3 linked regions of the Homo sapiens genome follow. The protein of the gene in region 1 interacts with the protein of each later gene in a pairwise test. Each region holds a gene or a part of one and is shown in the gene's direction. Other genes may lie near its edges.

Evidence for each region.
Region 2: the proteins of LSM1 (region 1) and TCL1B interact in binary tests that used the Homo sapiens proteins (3 or more experiments, as listed by UniProt).
Region 3: the proteins of LSM1 (region 1) and LSM6 interact in binary tests that used the Homo sapiens proteins (3 or more experiments, as listed by UniProt).

What each region holds. Positions count from the first base shown.
Region 1 is NC_000008.11:38,162,847-38,166,596, reverse strand, and holds the end of LSM1 (U6 snRNA-associated Sm-like protein LSm1), read left to right. Parts: intron 1-2,756; coding exon 2,757-2,927; 3' UTR 2,928-3,258; downstream 3,259-3,750. UniProt on the Homo sapiens protein: Plays a role in the degradation of histone mRNAs, the only eukaryotic mRNAs that are not polyadenylated. Probably also part of an LSm subunits-containing complex involved in the general process of mRNA degradation.
Region 2 is NC_000014.9:95,689,424-95,693,173, forward strand, and holds the end of TCL1B (T-cell leukemia/lymphoma protein 1B), read left to right. Parts: intron 1-1,312; coding exon 1,313-1,483; intron 1,484-1,844; coding exon 1,845-1,898; 3' UTR 1,899-1,913; intron 1,914-2,507; 3' UTR 2,508-3,205; downstream 3,206-3,750. UniProt on the Homo sapiens protein: Enhances the phosphorylation and activation of AKT1 and AKT2.
Region 3 is NC_000004.12:146,178,619-146,182,268, forward strand, and holds part of LSM6 (U6 snRNA-associated Sm-like protein LSm6), read left to right. Parts: intron 1-3,650. UniProt on the Homo sapiens protein: Plays a role in pre-mRNA splicing as component of the U4/U6-U5 tri-snRNP complex that is involved in spliceosome assembly, and as component of the precatalytic spliceosome (spliceosome B complex).

The sequences.
Region 1 (3,750 bases):
AAACTTTTATCATTGAAAGTCATAGAGGAGGGTAAGAAACAGGAATACTTTGTATAGGCTTTCCATCTTACAAAAACACCAAATAATACCTGTACATTCATTTTAAGGACAATAAACTGAATCTATGGACAGTGAGATACTTTTTTAGCAAGGTTCTTCTGCATTATGACATTGGTTAGCAAATGTTTATAAGGGCCAGGCACAGTGGCTCACACTTTGGGAGGCCAAGGCAAGAGGATGCTTGAGGCCAGAAGTTTGAGACCAGCCTGGGCAACATAGCAAGACCCCATCTCTACAAAAAGAAAAAAGATTTAATGCCAGATGTGGTGGCACATGCCTGTAGTTCCAGCTACTTAGGAGGCTGAGGCAGGAGGATCACTTCAGCCCAAGAGTTTCAGATCATGGTGAGCTGTGATTGTGCCACTGCACTCCACCCTGGGCAACAGAGCAAGATCCTGTCTCTAAAAAAATGAAAAATGTGCTCACATTGGCAGCACATCTACTAAAATTGGAACAACACAGAGAAGATTAGCACGGCCCCTGCTTAAGGATGACACGCAAATTCATGAAGTCTTCTATATCTTTAAAAATAATTAATGAAAAATGTTTATAAAACATTCAAAAATAAAAATATTAAGCATACTATGCCACATTTAAGTGAAAAAACGAATTAAAGTCAGTATTTGCATTGTGGGTTTTTGGGAGGGGTTTGTTTTTGAGGCAGCGTCTCACTTTGTTATCTAGGCTGACTGCAGTGGTGTGATCACAGCTCACTGCAGCCTCAAACTCCTGGGCTCAAGTGATCCTCCCCCCTCAGCCTCATGAGTAGCTGGGACTATAGGTACACGTTACCACGCCCAGCTAATTTTTTATTTTTTACTTTTTTTTTTTTTTCCTTTTGAGACAGAGTCTTACTCTGTCGCCCAGGCTAGAGTGCAGTGGTGTGATCTTGGCTCACTGCAACCTCTGCCTCCTGGATTCAAGTGATTCTCGTGCCTCAGCTTCCCGAGTAGCTGGGATTACAAGTGTGAGCCACCACACCTGGCTGGGTTGTTTATTTTTTTTAAGTCAGTATATATGTAGAAAAATTGTAGGGATATTATCAAAATGTTAATCCTCCATACTGGAATTATGGATAATTTTTAAATTTTCCTTGTTTGTCTATTTTCCATATTATCTACGATGAGTGTGTATTTTTTAAATAAGGAATTTTTTATTAGGCAACAATTTTTTGTTTTTTTTTGAGATGGAGTTTTACTCTTGTCACCCAGGCTAGAGTGCAATGGCGTGATCTCCGCTCACTGCAACCTCCGCCTCCCAGGTTCAAGTGCTTCTCCTGCCTCAGCCTCCCAAGTAGCTGGGATTACAGGCACCTGCCACCACGCCCAGCTAATTTTTTTTGTATTTTTAGTAGAGACGGGGGTTTTGCCATGTTGGCCAGGCTGGTCTCGAACTCCTGGCCTCAAGTGATCTGCCCGCCTCGGCTTCCCAGTGTGCTGGGATTACAAGCGTGAGCCACCATGCCCAACCTAAGCAGCAATTTTTTAAATAGTGGAGAAAAATATTGGGACCAAATTGGTTTAGTAACCTAAATGGTCTGCCGAGGTTCTCCCTAGAAGACTTGTTGCCGTAAAGGGAAAAAGAGTCTTGTTACAGTTTAGATCTAGACTACAGAGCTGGTACGGTGGCGCACACCTGTAGCCCCAGCTACGTAGGAGGTAAAGGCAAGAGGATCCCTTTTTATTTTTGTCTTTTTACTTTTTTTGAGACGGTCTTGCTGTTGCAGAGGCTGGAGTGCAGTGACACATTCATGGCTCACTGCAGCCTTGAACTTCAACCTCCCAGGCTCAAGCAGTCCTTCCACCTCAGCCTCCTGAGTAGCTGGAACTGTAGGTGAACACCACCACACCAGCTTTTTTTTGTTTTGTTTTTTGGTGGAGTTAGTTAGGGTCTCACTGTGTTGCCCAGGCTGGTCTCGAACTCCTAGGCCCAAGTGATCCTCCCACCTCAGCCTCCCAAAGTGCTGGGATTACGACTGTGAGCCACTCCACCCGTCCTTAAAATAATTAAAAAAAAAAAAAAGTCTAAGGCCACATTGCCTCAATAACCTCCCTCTTGGATTCTCTGCAGTGGGGGAGATAGCTGTCTATAAGCAGCCCTAATTTTTTTTTTTAAGGAAATTAATCGTGGACTAATAGAAAATTAATCCTGACTAATATGGGATTTTGGATCACATAAAGCTCTGTTATACAAATACTTATTACTGCCTATAATCCCAGCACTTTGAGAGGCCAAGGCAGGCAGATCATGAGGTCAGGTTTCGAGACCAGCCTGACCAACGTGGTGAAACCCTGTCTCTACTTAAAATACAAAAATTAGCCAGGCGTGGTGGCACGTGCCTGTAATCACAGCTACTCAGGAGGCTGAGGCAGGATAATCGCTTGAACCCAGGAGGTAGAGGTTGCAGTGAGCTCAGATTGCGCCACTGCACTTCAGCCTGGGTGACAGAGAGACTCCATCTTGAAAAATATATACATATACTGATCACTATTAACCTCATTGTAAGTATGTATCCTATAGTAGTGTTGTCAGGCATTTCTTTGAAAAACTTACCGGTCCCTAGGAGAAGGATATTTCAGTTCCTGTCACAGTTATGAAAAATAATCTGAGCCTGATAGAGGAATCCATTTGCCTTGAGATCTGTGCTTTCTATTCTTGGTCTTCAGGTGAAGTTTTCAAACCTGTCTCTTTTGTAGGACTTGGAAAAGGAGAGTGACACACCCCTCCAGCAAGTATCCATTGAAGAAATTCTAGAAGAACAAAGGGTGGAACAGCAGACCAAGCTGGAAGCAGAGAAGTTGAAAGTGCAGGCCCTGAAGGACCGAGGTCTTTCCATTCCTCGAGCAGATACTCTTGATGAGTACTAATCTTTTGCCCAGAGGCTGTTGGCTCTTGAAGAGTAGGGGCTGTCACTGAGTGAAAGTGACATCCTGGCCACCTCACGCATTTGATCACAGACTGTAGAGTTTTGAAAAGTCACTTTTATTTTTAATTATTTTACATATGCAACATGAAGAAATCGTGTAGGTGGGTTTTTTTTTTAATAACAAAATCACTGTTTAAAGAAACAGTGGCATAGACTCCTTCACACATCACTGTGGCACCAGCAACTACTTCTTTATATTGTTCTTCATATCCCAAATTAGAGTTTACAGGGACAGTCTTCATTTACTTGTAAATAAAATATGAATCTCAAAAGTGTCATGTTATTTCCAAGTTTGAGTTACCTGTAATGAATAGATTAATAGATTAATTAAGTTTCTGCTCTCAAAGGTATAAGCAGTCCACATACTGGGATTTCCCCCTTCAGTCACAGTTTCAAGTAGCTGGCTACTTAGGAAGGAATATTTTTATTCCAGTCATCTCAGGGGTCCTCTCCTGTTTCCATGTTTGTATCTGTTAAGAAATACAAATGTTCGGCAGGGGCGGTGGCTCATGCCTGTAATCCCAGCACTTTGGGATGCCGAGGCGGGTAGATCACCTGAGGTCGGGAGTTGAAGACCATCCTGACCAACATGGAGAAACCCTGTCTCTACTAAAAATACAAAATTACCAGGGCGTGGTGGCGCATGCTGTAATCCCAGCTACTTGAGAGGCTGAGGCAGGAGAATCACTTGAACCTGGAAGGCAGAGGTTGCGGAGAGCCAAGATTGCACCATTGCACTCCAGCCTGGGCAATGAGCGAAACTC
Region 2 (3,750 bases), on another chromosome or scaffold:
TTCTTTCTTAAAAATAGATCGATGTCTTAGGGTGGGAATTAGGCTTCCTGGGCGACACATCTAATGCAAAGATCAGCCACCTTTTTCTGTAAAGGATCTGATGGTAAACATTTTCCACTTGGAGAGCTATGCTCTTGCAGCTACTCAGCTCTGCTATTGCAGTGCAAAAGCAGCTAAAGGCAACGGTAAAGGAATGAGGGAAGGAGCCTTAGTTTATTTACAATAAAGCTTTATTTGCAAAAGCAGATGCAAGCCAGACTTAGTTTGCTGATCTCTGATCTACAGTCAGAATACACAGAGAAGGAGAGATTTTGCCGTATAATTTAAAATACTTCTCTTTGCAAAAGCAGTCCATAAAAAAAGTGAGGACGACAAACTGAGAAAAATTATTCACAACATGTCTGATTGATAGAGCACTAATATTCTTAATTCAAAAAGACATTTTATCACAAAAGAAGACAAATACTTAGAAAATTGTGCAAAAGACTTTCCATTTTGTTGCATAACGTAGGAAGCTTTGGTTTTACTTTTCCTATCATCTTTCTAACTTCCAGTACCAGCCTAATTTTGTTATTTTTATTATTATGTATTTATTTTGAGACAGAGTCTTGCTCTGTCTCCCAGGCTGGAGTGCAGTGACCTGACGATAGCTTACAACAGCCTCTACCTCCCAGGTTCAAGAAATCTTCTCACCTTAGCTTCCCGAGTAGCTGGGACTGTAGGCACATGCCACCATGGCCAGCTAATTTTTTATTTTTTGTAGAGACAGAGTCTCATTATGTTGCCGAGGCTGGTCTTGAACTCGTGGCTTCAAGCAGTCCTCCTGCCTTGGCCTCCCAAAGTGTTGGGATTACAGGCATAAGCCACTGCTCCCAGCCTTATTTCGTATATTTACTATAAGTGTGTGAAGGTCATGATCAGAACTGCCATATATTTTGGCGGGAAAATCTATCACCCTCAGATCCAGAGTCCATGGATATCTTGTTTTTAAAACGAAGATTTAAAAAATTACGGCAATGGCAGAGATGGAGCCCCAAGAGAATACTCAGCTTTAACCCAAGGTGTTGACAGGTTGGAAACAGTGGCTAAATTTGGGGATTGCAGTGGGGCGAGGCAGGGTGCAGGTCAGAGGGGGCCAGAAGGGCCCCAGCCATCCTAGATGGAGCCACAAGTACCAGTGCCAAGGCTCTTGGTCTGGAATTCTGAAAACATTTACCTCTGACCCTGGCAGCCCACTGGCCATTGCTTGTGTGCAGCCCAGTTGGCAGGGAACCCTATCCATGATTTGCCGCCTCTTTTCTGGTCCCTTCAGTATGAACCCAGCATCACAGTGCACTTGTGGCAGATGGCAGTGCATACCCGGGAGCTACTCTCCTCCGGCCAGATGCCCTTCTCCCAGCTGCCCGCCGTGTGGCAGCTCTACCCCGGGAGGAAGTACCGAGCAGCGGATTCCAGTTTCTGGGAAATAGCAGACCATGGCCAGGCAAGTGTGTGGTGGTTCTAGGTGAAAGCGACAGGTGGCCCCTGGTGACTGCCGTGGCCCTCTCTCTTCTGTGCCCCTGGCCCCCTTGGGGTTCTTGTCTGTCCTCTTCCTGTTGCTCAAGTCTTCCTTCAAGGAGGCCTGAGTGTGTGTGGGTGGATCGGTGCATGAGTTCCCATGTGGGATGCAGGCAGAGTGGGTGAGGGAGGGAGGGTTGCCTTCCCTGGGCTAGGGAAATCCACAAGCTGGAGTTCCCACCTGCCTCACCCCTGCCTGCTGCTGCTGCCAGCCTGCATGGGCGGCCGTTAAGGCCAACTGGAAGAGCATCTCCCAGAGGTTCTGATGGCTGCTCCCTCTCCTGCAGATTGACTCTATGGAGCAGCTGGTCCTAACATATCAGCCGGAGAGGAAAGACTGACACTGGGAGTGGCTGGTATGTTGGGGCCCTGTGCGTCTCAGTGTAGGGATCAGACGAAAGTGAGAAGACCTCTCCTCTTTTCAGAAAGACGGCGTGGCCTCCTCCTCCCTGCTGTTTGCTGAGATTTTTCTTACATAGCCACCTGTCACCTCTGTTCCCCAGCCCCTTGGATGTGATGGTACACAGTGGGTGGGCCCCCATAATAAGTTCCTAAAGCATGGGATCTCATCGAATAAGACTCATCATTTAATCCTTGTGAGAATTTTGTGAGGTGTACGTGTTAATGTCCCATTTCACGACGAAAAGACAAGACTCTGGGGATGGGAATGACTTCCTCGAGACCATACAGCCAGGAAATAGCGGTGAATCTAGTGATCTCGGGTCCCTAGATTTAACCATGGCACTGAGGTGCCGTGTGACGGTGGCCTTGGAGGACCCAGCACTGACCCATAGAGGGCTCCTCTCAGATGGGCAGCAGCTTGGAGCAGGCCAGGCAGGGCCTGGGCCATTGGAGGGGCTGGCACTGGACTTGCCTTTGACCCCAGCAGCTTGGATGGGGTGCCGGGCTCCCCCATAGTTCACTGACTGTCTCCTTTGGTCTTCTCGCAGGCCCTGCTGGCCCTGCCTCTTCTGGCCTGGTGTCTCCTCATGCCCCCTCAGTGAGGATCTTCATGTACCTGCTCTTCTGTTTGCACACCCAGCATAGCCTCCTTGCAGGCAGAAGGCAGTAGGGCCCCTGCACACTCAGTTTCTCTCGTTTTCCTTAGTTATCAGTCCTGTCCTGTCCCACTCAGGTCTGTACTTAGGGCAGCTGGCCTGGATGGGCTTCACTGGGGCCCTGTCTGTGTGCTGAGCCAGTTTCCCCTGCTGGCTGCAAGCTGTGGGTTCTTTCTCCTCTGTGCCCCTCATGCTGATCTTCTAGATGCCACTCCCAAATCCCCTTCATACCCACCAGGATGTGTGCCCAGCCAGGCCTCCAGCACCCCCAGTGCAGCTCGTGATTGGAAACTCACCATCGGCAGGCAGTGGTTCGGTTTAAGAGATGGCATTAGAGGGAGCCCAGTCTGGATGTGGACTTGGATGCCCTGTGGGTATCAGTTCTGCTGACACTTTGGCCCGAAATAGATCCAGTGCTGAGCAAGCAATGTACACCAGAGCCTCAGTGAGCCCATCTGCACAGTGGGGAGCATGGAGGGATGGGTTTGGCCTGTGCTTCTGCTTATTCAGTCCTTCAGCTCACGGAAGGGATGCTAGTCCGTGAAGGTGACCTCACAGTACTGGTTAATTAAACTTTATTGCTCACTGTCCACTTTTGTGCTGAATTGGAGCCTCTCTTTGACCTCTTTCTAGCATAGAAATGGCAGCTTCTGGTACCGAAATGTTAAGGTAACATTTTAATGATCCATTTCATATTTTTCCACACTGGGAAGGAAATTGTGATTGGTCCATTCAGCAGCAGGACGTCGGCGGGAGTTAAGGAAGGGGAGGAGACTCGTGCGGGCTCTGGGTGAAGCCCTGCTGTGAAAGGGCAGGAAAGCCCGTAGTGGTCACAGGAGAACCGGGAGCAAGGGAGAGCTCCCAAAGCGAGACAATGCAACAGCATGTCATTGCAGGAGATGCAGAATGCAGGTGCAAGGGAGGAAGGGCCCATGTGTGGGAGAGTATGACATGACAGAGGAGCAGAGTCCTTGAGCAGGGAGGGATGAGGCAGGGGGCCAAGGCACTGAGCAGTGCCACCATTGTGACCAGGAAGAAGAGGACGATACAGTGCAGGTCAGGGTGACCATGCAGTGGTGGCAAGGAGAAGAGATTCCCTCCCTCATGTCGCTCACAAGAAAAAATCACCCATGGG
Region 3 (3,650 bases), on another chromosome or scaffold:
GGTAAAAACTTACAGGTAAACATTGCCAAGAAATAAGGATTTTCATGTCTTCTGCTCAGTGGCATAACTCAAATCACATGAGATAGATTTCTTTGCATCTGTCCATTGTATTTCTCTGAGGCTAATTTACAGCACTTTGTCACGTTAGGTATTTTTTTTCCCCAGTGCTGCTACTCTCCAACTGGATTTCTCACCGCCTCTATTGCGATTCCCCAAGATTTAACCAGAGAATCTTAACATATTCAGAAGGGCAGCTGTACCTGTGAAAGGGCTTGGGCTTTGGGGTCAGCCTTGGCTTTGCTTTCCACCTCACAGGGTTTCTCTGTAAATTGCTTATGAATCTAACTCTGGTAGCACATAGTTGGGTTAATAAAAGTTCTTTTTTTTCTTCATTCTTTTACCAAAAAGAAAAAAATTCCCTGCAGGGCACTTTGCAGATGTTTTCATACTAGACCTCTCAGTAGCTTCTGACAGAAAATATACTGCCTTTGACTTAATAGTCATTTATGAAAATAGGTCATTTAAAACAAGCCTGAGTAGGAGTCAGGGGAGGGAGAGGAGGTATAGAGAGTGATTATGACTTTAATTTTGAAAGGAGAAGTTTTACCAGGGTGACCCTGAAGAAAGGTCTTTTTCCTCTTATGTGTTTATGGTTCAAGAGACTCATCTCTTGCTTCAGAAATTGTCAGAACTGTTTCTTCTGCTTTATCCAATTTAAAAGATGAAAACTTAAAATTACTTGAGCCAAGTGATGGGAAAAATTGTGGTGTCAAGACCAATTTACTCATACAAAATGGATTTATGGGCAAGTCATTAAGTAACAGGGAGTAGCAAGGAAGCCTAATGAAGACTAATGTAAAAGATACGGCTTTCCTAAAGTGATGGATAAAATGTGTTTGAGGCAACCCATATACTCTTTTCCAAATAACCTTAGAAGTATTTTTTTTCCAAGAGGTTTAGTAGAATGTAGATATTCTAGAGAACAGATGAGAAGCTTGTGAGCCCCTCTTGTCATGTGGCTTACAGTATTTTGAGGGAGAAAAGACCCACATAAAGAATACAAAAGAGGGCATAGTGACAGGTTATAGCAAATAAAATCAAATGCCAAACTATGTGATGCCAAAAGTAGGTGAGATGGGCATCTGCACTCTGCTATGGAAAGTAGAGAGTGGAACCCAAGCAAGTTCCTGCTTAAAACCCCTGTTTCCTATCATTGACAACAGTATTTCCCCTTGCCAGTTATTTCCTAGGCTTGTTCAAATAGATTGCTGGCTCCTACCCCAGAACTACTGAGTAGAATCTCCAGCTGATCCTAATGATTCAAGTTTGGGAAACTGACCCAGAGCCTCAACTCTGTGCTCCCTGTGAATGTGGCACAGCTCCCTGCCGCAGAGGCGTCTCCTCCTTGCCTATGTAGATTTTACGTTCTACCCAGACACTTGTTCCGTGCCTTTTCTGACTTCTCTTCTTTCAGCTAGGGGGTGACGCCTTTTCCTTCAAATTCAGCTCAGGTGTTAACTTCCAGAAATTCTTTGATCTGCCAAGCCTGGGGTAAGAGAGTGTTCTCTGCCCTTTTGTGCATAATTCTATCAGAATACACATCACCTTTGTAAAATTCTGCATTTACATGTTTCTTGCCCTCTCTGGAATGTAAACTCTGAGGGCTTAAGGCCTTGTCTTTGTGTTACATTCCCCAACCCTGTGCGCCTGAACTTGACAGGTGCTCCGTGAAAGTTGGAAGTGTTGATTGCCTTCAGGAAGAGATTGATGTTAATTGGAATACAGATAAAGCATAATGGACAAGGCGTTATCTTTGGTGAGCTTAGAAGAACATATCTGTGTTTATAAAAAGGTGTGGAAAGTTAATATTAATAATACTTTTAAAATAACCTATACTGTCAAGCAACTGATAGTCAAGATTTGCATTCTTTTTTCTGACAGTTATTAACTCTTTCCAGCTTTTGCTTTTCAAATGTTTTTAATCTGAAACTGTAAATACTCTATGAGCAGATGAAATTAGTAATAATTAAAGTAGTTAATATCTCCATGAACTAGAATCACATTACAAAGCATTTTAGTGATTTTTAACACAAAATAGCTACTTTTATCTCAGTTTTATACATAATGAAACTGTGGCATAATGGGATTTAGCATCTGTGATAGGAAATGCACCTGACTCATCAGTTGAGTATCAGGCCTTCAGAGTTAATATTCTCTCTAGATGTGTTCAGCCTCAAAACAGCATGTATTCAAAATGTAAATAAGGCGGTTTATAGATGAATGGGAAGATTTGTGTATTTTCACTAAACTCATTAAAGGTACTGAATCTGTTACAGTATTTATTTTGTATTTTTTCACTTTGTACTCAGAACAGTGTAAATAAAATTACTGTGTGATCTGAGTCCTGAATGAAAAGTGGTTGTCCTGAATAGTAGTTGTAATAGTAGTTGTAATTGTAGTTATCTGTTGAGATTGTGGAGCTAATAAAATAAGCTAGAAATTCAGTGGAAAAGTTAAGTTAACATTTGTTGAGCAAAATAATTTATTGCATTTTAAAAACATCTTTCAAACCTTGGGGGCAGTGTAGATTGTCCAAATGATAGCCCAAAATTCAAAGATAATTTCTGAAATTTGTATTTTCTTTTATTTGACTTAGGATGTTGACTTTTCTTGGCTAAATAAAATTATTTTACTTAAATTATGATTGCGTTTGTTTACTCACACTCTTTAAATGAGTTTAAATTCTTCTAGATTTTAAGTTCTTTAAGGCAGAGCCTTTGTGTATGACATGTTTTTGAATTTCCTTGCTCAGTGTGTACATGTACATGTAATTTGTTGAGCCCAGTAACCTAGAGTTCCAGCTTACTACAACTGCTGATCCCGTGTGAATTCACTATGAGAACGTCTCCAAATAATCCTTCTCCACACAAACTCAGATTATTGAGTGGATGGACTTAGAATGAAATAAGCATAGTGGAAGAATGTTTAATGAAAAAATAATGGAAGAATATTTAATGAAAAAATTTCATTGAAAACAAAAGAACAGCTTGAGTTCTTGAAGGGAATCCTTAAAATATTGTATCCATACTAACTTTTAAGTCTCAGTGCTATATAGCTGCTGAATAATAGTGATGCTGAATTTGACTGAAACAGAAAAATTAATTTCTGAAATATTTTTACTCAGTTTTTGCTTAACTACAGTTTTATTAACTTACCAACATATTTTGAAAGAGAGCTATTTTATAAGAAAAGATGCGTTTTGAAAGGAGTGATGTGCAGCTTTGCATGTCTGATGCTGTTGATTTGGGTGTGTAATGCTATCTCTTTTTCTGTGTTAGACTCCTGTTATACTTGAGTTTTAAGACTTTTTTCTTCATTATTTAGAGCACATATCTGCTATAGTCCTAATAGAGTAATTAAAAATCTTTGACTGTGTTATTGACTTTCAGAAAGCTGTTTAAGGTTGTGATTAAGAGTATGGGCTGGCTATCCACTTTCTAGCTGTGTGACCTTGAGCAGAGTGTTTAATCTTTCTGTGTCTTCTTCTTCATGTGTAAAATGAGGATAAAAACAATACCTCCCTTTTAGGGTAGAGCAATTTAAATTGATTAATATATATAAAGTTCTTGGAAAAGTGCTGGCATATAGTA